2 linked regions of the Homo sapiens genome follow. The protein of the gene in region 2 purifies or fractionates together with the protein of the main gene of each other region. This does not show direct contact. Each region holds a gene or a part of one and is shown on either strand. Other genes may lie near its edges.

The links. The genes of interacting proteins can lie anywhere in the genome.
Region 1: the proteins of ATP8B4 (region 2) and TMEM230 purify together in Homo sapiens (affinity purification with mass spectrometry; one large-scale study listed by BioGRID and IntAct). This does not show direct contact.

The regions. Positions count from the first base shown.
Region 1 is NC_000020.11:5,099,391-5,103,148, forward strand, and holds the end of TMEM230 (transmembrane protein 230), read right to left. Parts: intron 1,542-3,758; coding exon 1,401-1,541; 3' UTR 460-1,400; downstream 1-459.
Region 2 is NC_000015.10:49,857,633-49,861,038, forward strand, and holds the end of ATP8B4 (probable phospholipid-transporting ATPase IM), read right to left. Parts: intron 2,844-3,406; coding exon 2,562-2,843; 3' UTR 606-2,561; downstream 1-605. UniProt on the Homo sapiens protein: Component of a P4-ATPase flippase complex which catalyzes the hydrolysis of ATP coupled to the transport of aminophospholipids from the outer to the inner leaflet of various membranes and ensures the maintenance of asymmetric distribution of phospholipids.

The DNA.
Region 1 (3,758 bases), on a different chromosome or scaffold from region 2:
CCAGTCAACATTCCCATTACCAAAAGTCCCTAATCTTGGAGGCTGCTTCAGGTCACCCTCTCTTTGTCCCTCACTTCCTGAGTTTTTTTTTTTTCCTCCAACTATACTCACTCTACTGGTGATCTCAAACAGCCCTCTAGCTTTTAAGATACTGTCCAAATGCTGACTCCCAAATTTCTATTTCCATCCAAGACCCACTCTTAAACTCTAGACACACACATGCATCGCAACTGCCTCCTCAACAGCTCCACTTGGATATTGAGTAGACATCTAAAACTTGCTCTTCCCACAGCCTTGCAACTCAGCTGATGGCATGTCCAGGCTTCCAGTTGCCCAAGTCCATAACCTCAGAGTTAGGGAAAGTTGAGTGTGACCCACAATGCCAGCTACCTAGAAACTAAGGTAGATCTAGGTACTGGGATTAAAGATATCATAAAATCATTAAAATGTTTTCTGAAATGTTTGAAGTTAACTCATTTTATTTCTAGGATTTGGATTTCAACATTTTAATTTCTTTGGAATATAAGTCACTTTTTGCAAGCTAAAAAATAGAATCAAACTAAGGTGATCTAGTCCTCTAGGCATCCAGGCTGATCCTTGGAATCATGAGCAGAATGATGACATACTACAAGGTGCTAGCAATACGGCTATAAACTCTAAATAATAACCACTACATGTTTCATTAGGAAACAGCCAAAAGTCCGGCCGTTAAAGGAATAATCTGCAGAACATCTTGATTTACAAGGGACAAAATGATGCAAATTATATGCTGTCCAACCTACTGGTGAACTGGATCAGAATGGTCCAAGGACTGTTAAACAGAGGAAGTATTTACATTTTGAAAACTTGCTCTGCAGGATAAAAAAATTCCTGGTTGCTGTCAGTAAGAAAGCAAGTAAAAAAAATATTACAGATGAACTCACTGATCTTTGATTTTACTAAGGTCTTCCACTGGAACATGAAGGTAGGGATAAGTGTACAGGATAATATACTCAGATATTTTTAAAATAAATTACTTAATAATAAGAAATTAGCCATACCACATTGTTCCATTTGCTACAAGAACAAATTGGCAATGAAGACTATTTAAAAGAAATGCTCAGCTCTACAGAGGGTGGTGGCAGGCAACACTTTTCCATTACAGAATAACCTCTATTCTTCCATGATACATATTCCTGTGGAAAAACTTGTCAGGGCCCAGGGATGAAAAATAGAGCTTGTCCTAATTAGCTAACTGTAGGTTCACTTAACATCTTTGGGAAGGACCCAAAAAATCTGGCCATTATTTTCTTAAACATCTGCAAGCTGCAGAATTCCTTAGTCCTCAGCTATAGTTTCTGCTAGATATCTTAAAGCTGGGACAGTTCCACTGTGACTCCTCCTCAGCTATGGGGTGGGTGCTAGTCATCAAAGTCTGGAATGTCATCATAGGAGTAACCACGGTAGCCTTTGGATGCATAGTAAGCGATGCGCAGGTGGTAAAATCCGGGTAGGAACACCAGAATGCCAATGATCAGCACTGGAACGGCCCGGTCTGCCCCCTGGTGGCAGAAGGAGGCAAACACATTAGTACCGTAAGAGTTACACATTTTAAAATAAAACGTCACAGACCTAATCCTTAGATCAGTATTTTATACTCTTCAGTACTTTTTCTTTGAGTTGTATACCACCAAGGGAAAAGGTTTCCTCCTGATTATAAATTGAAGACAAACTACAAAATATTAACAATTATAAAGAAAAAAATGACCCATTCTCATCCAGATATTTTGGCTTCTTTTCCTTTTTTTAAAGCTCTTAGTTGTGAACACACCATACTCTGTGTCCTGTGGCCAATATTATTAAAACCTTTTCATACATTTAAACTGTAAGGATGTGTAACATTCCACCGAAATGGACATACTACAGTTTTACCTAACTGCCCCACATACAGCTGCTGGACACTTTGGTTGTTTTTCACCTTTTGTAATTGTACAGATACCACTACAATAAACTCTGTGTTTTTCTCAGCCTTTCAGGTTTTCTTTTCTTTCTCTTTTTTCTTTTTTTTTGAGGTAAGAGTCTTGCTCTGTTGCTCGGGCTGGAGTACAGTGGTGTGATTACAGCTCACTGCAACCTCGACTTCCCAGGCTCAAGTGATCCTCCCACCTCAGCCTCCAAGTAGCTGGAGTTACAGGTGTCAGTCACCATACCTGGCTCATTTTGTACATTTGTTTGTTTGGTAGAGATGAGGTCTCGCTATGTTGCCCAGGCTGGTCTCGAACTCTGGGGCTCAAGCAATCCTCCTGCCTCAGCCTCCCAAAATGCTAGAATTATAGGCTTGAGCCACTGCACCTGGCTGGCTGTGTTCCCTGTTGTGTGTTAATTATAGTCAGAATTGGTTCAAGACAACTTGGACACTGTGTATGTGGGGACAGCCCATGAGAAAGAACCACCAACTACTTTAGGTTTCTAAGGTTTCATATTGAAGCTCAACAGGAACTCCAACCAAACCTACTGTAAGAAGGAACTGACTTACGAGGCACAGTGACCCCACACATATAACAGAATTGCTATTTCTCTCCAAATACTGACAGTATGTCCATGGCACTGCACAGCTACAATGACAGCATGCTGCTCCAGCTACAGCCCTTTACCAATCAGGACTCCTGTATGCCAGGCTCAGCCATGTTGTTCCAAACTATGACAGGGCAAACTGTCTAATATCTCAGAGGCCAAGTTTGCCTACCTGCCACCACCTCCCCTATAGGAACTATGGAAGTTTACTGTTGCTCAAAGGAAGAAAAACATGTTTTGCCAACAGAGAACAAAATGTAAAAGAAAATCTTTTTGGTTTTTCTGCTGGAATCTGCTGTACCAGACATGAATATAAAAACAAAGATTGAACAATGAAAAAAATCTAAAACCTGAATAGACAAAGAGTAATGAGATTAAGGCCATAATAAAAAGTCTCTTAGCAGAGAGAAGCCTGGGACTAGATGGTTTCGCTGCTGAATTATACCAGTTAAAGAATTAATACTTGGCTGGGCATGGTGGTTCACTCCTGTAATCCCAGCACTTTGGGAGGCCAAGGCAGGCAGATCGCTTGAGCTCAGGATTTCAAGACCAGCCTGGTCAACATGGTAAAATCCTGTCTTGACAAAAAATACAAAAATTAGATGGGCATGGTGGTATATGCCTGTGGTCCCAGTTGCTAGTGAGGCTGAGGTGGCAGGATCACATAAGCCGGGGAGGCAAAGGTTGCAGTGAGCTGAGATCGCACCACTGCACTACACCTGCATGACAGATGAGACCCTGTCTCAAAAAAAAAAAAAAAAAAAAAGAATACTAATCCTACTGAAACTATTCTGAACAGACATGGAGAGAATACTTCCAAACTGATTCTACTAGGCCAGTTTTACCCTGATACCAAAACTAGGCAAAGACACATCGAAAAAACAAAAATAGGCCAATATCCCTGATGAACATTGATGCAAAAATCCTCAATAAGGAGGATAATACTAGCAAACTGAATTCAACAATACATTAAAAAGATCATTCATCAGGACCAAGTGGGATTTATCCCAGAGAGGCAAGGATGGTTCAACTTATACAAACCAATCAATGTGATAAAATCGTATCAGCAGAATGAAGGACAAAAACCATATGATTATTTCAATCGATGCTAGAAAAGCATTTGATAAAATTCTACATCCACCGGGTGTGGTGGCTCACGCCTGTAATCCCAGTACTTTGGGAGGCTAGGGTGGGCCTCACACTGA
Region 2 (3,406 bases):
ATAAGTATATACATCTGGAGGCAGAGGAGAGAGCCAAAGATAGCAGAGCTAAGTCAGGGAAACACAATTTGCAATTACCTATAATAGCTCAAAACTTGGGCTGAGATTTTAAAAACACAAGATTATCAGCTTAAATCTAGAAAAAATAGTTTTTCTTTCCAAATAATTTGATAACATTTATGTAAAATTAAAATGTTATTATTCCCCAGTGCCCCCACCATCACTACCCACCTCTCATCACTTTTCATCTTCAGGTTCAAAATAATCCCTGGCGCTTGTAATTGAATGATCTCGCAATGGGTGTGTGAGTTTACTTGGATCTCATGGGGCCAAAGTAAGCTGATAATATGTTTCTCTCACAATCATCCACACTATTTGTTTATAAACAGCCTTATTTAATTTAAACTGGACTTGCAAAATTGGACCACTTCTAATCTTTCCTATCCCTTACACATAGGTCCAATTGTTTCATTTTATTCTTGACTCTGATTCTAAGAATGAGTACATTTTCCCCAGCATGTAAAGGAGAGAAAAAAATACCCGTGGACTAATGTAACAAAAATCTCCCCAATGAATTTCCCATAAAGAAGAGATAAAACATCAAGTACCAATAGTGCCAAAACATTTACTGAAAGTTTTCAAATCTTGCAAAAATGTTACAAAAAGTGAGCAAATGTGGTGAAACTAATGACAAATTAGACATTGAAAACCAACATCTGGTTAAGTGTAGGCAGGCATGTAAGGGAAAGACAACGTCCATAGGCAGTTACTATGGTAAAGGACTGCATTTGACTCTTTTACACATATTATTTCATTTGATCCCATTTAGGAAAGATTATCCCAGACTTGAAAATTTTGGTTTTAAAAAATTGTGACCTATAGATATCACATTAGCTCATTATCCATCAAACTCACTCAAGTGTCACCTGACTCTCTTGGGAAATGTAACTTTGTCTGACCAAGAATTTAATAGGGACCAGATTAAGGACTCTGTAGAATTAGAAGTTGATTTGTAGAAAACCATTAAGACATGATGCTTTATTTTTGCTTTCTGGTAGAGAAATGTACCTCCACGGTTATAATTTTATTTCCCTGTAGGACCCTAACCAGTTTTATATCTTTCTGGCAATTTCATTTTATCAAAGCCTTCCTCACTGACTATTTAGATTCCAGTTTTTTCATATTCTCTTCCAATTGCTCTGTTATACTGATGTTGAGTTAACTGGAACTTAACTCATCTGTTTATGAAATAATTATGTTTTTAATAATTTCAGAGTTTGTGCTTTGACAGACAATCATCAACCAACCACATGAGGTAGGTAGTATGTCCTCATTTTACAGAGGAAGAAACTGAGTCTCAGAGAAGGCACATTATCGTCCAAGTTTATAGAGGTAAGAAGTGACAGAACTGAGGTTTTCACACAAATATGCCCGAATCACTTTATGGAAAATACACTGATGATTCATATGTGGACTGAAATTTGAGCTGCAACATCTCCAAAAAAACAACCTTACCTACATATGTTTACTACATGTTTGAATTATAAACATGACAGCTGAGTATCAAAAGCAACTAATTTTAAACAATCTAAACCTGAGTTTTTAAATAGTAATTAAAACAATTATTTATTAATTTGTTTGGCTTCAATTCTGAAGCTTTAAAAATTGGAAATGTTGAAAATATTTGCCCATAGACTATGTGGAATATTATCATTAAAGTGTGAAATTCCAGTGCTTTGCTGATTCTATTAATGGTCTGGATGATGCTCAGCAAATTACTACTGAGGTTGTTAGAAAAGCCATTGAAAAGTATTTAGAATACTTAGTGGCGAGCCTCTCTCACATTTCATAAGCATGTCCTTACATGACACAGACTGAGAGCTTTTTGAATAAATTTGATCAAATTACCAGCCTATCCTGCTGCAAAGATGTTCAGTCTCCTTTGTCCCTAGACTGGTATAAAAATGAGAAACACAAGCACACTTTTGTATTCTTCAGGCTTGGAAGCCATTTGTTGTCCTGGCTGAACAGACAGGTAGATATCAAGACTAAAGAGTGACATGCAACTCAGTCTGAAAGCAACACAGTACACGCTTTAAATTTTAAAAGTATACCTTGGGAAAGGCTGATCTTACAGATACATGTTTATCTGTCAATAGGCATGCTTTTCAGCTTGGATATATACCTTTAAAATGCACCCTTTTATCCGCCTGAGGATCCATTCAGTGAATATGCAGCTTTACAAGTTTTTCTCCATAAATAAGATTCTAAAGTTCAGGTCAATTGGTATCTAGGTTGATTTAAAAAAAAAAAAAATCTGTACTTGTAACAGCGAGTGTTTTGTCCACCAAATCACAAACCAGACAGTGACCCTCTGGCCTGGTTTTCCATAGCGCACACTCCTGTTTGATGGGCACTGGCAGTTGTCTGCCGCAGATTTAAGTTAAGTGAGGCAATCTGCCTGCCCCACCTCTTGCCTCAAATCTCAAACTCTGGAGCCAGCAGAATTTCAGCTCCACCTGAAGTGAAAAGATAACTACGTGGTTTAAATTCATATTGACTCACAGTTTCACTGTTTTATCCTGGCTAAAGCTGCTCACGGTGTCTGTGGTTTTCTTACATAAATTTTCAATCCAGCTAGTGCTATTATAATGTGTCTTTTCCAGCCCTGATGTTGGGGGTGGATTTTTAGCTCGCATATTTTTTCCAGATGTGATAAGCTCTCCATAGCCTTCTTGGTGAGCAAAAGCATATCCAGACCTTCTTGAGCTTGACCTGCGGGTCCGAGGCCTTCGGCTACTTGGAGGCCTTGCCTTCTTTTGAGCCTTCTGCCACCGGCGGATCTGGAGAGAAACAGACCCAAAGTGAGATGATGCATCCAAATGATAGACTCCAGGCAGTGGCCCACTTTGTAAAGTGAAAGCCTTTTTTTTTTATAAGTAAAAACAACATTGCAAAAGGAAGTTTTAAATCTAAAAACTAAGAAATTTTCCACCCAAAAGATAACACTGGGGGGGCACTGGTCCATTTTTATCTCTATCGAGACACTATTAAGTAATTAAGAAATATCAGACAAATTTCATTATTGTCTCTCATGTATCTTCAATGCATATGAGCATACATTTGTATAGAAAGATTTTCTAACATGCACCGCCCAAAGTCAGCATAATAATTTATAATTTCATTCTCCCAAAACAGCCTTTTTCCTCTCTTTTAGAGATTCTCTGGATCCAACAGTTGTCAGTAACTGGACTAGAAGAAAATTCAGAAAATGAGTCAGAAATATTCAATTCTTGTGGTAGCTCAACGTATCATGAGACTTCCAGGGTTTTGATTTCTTAGGTTTGTATGGCCTTTCTAAATGTTCCCTATTATGTGAGTAGGTTTCCCACAACTCTTTCATTCC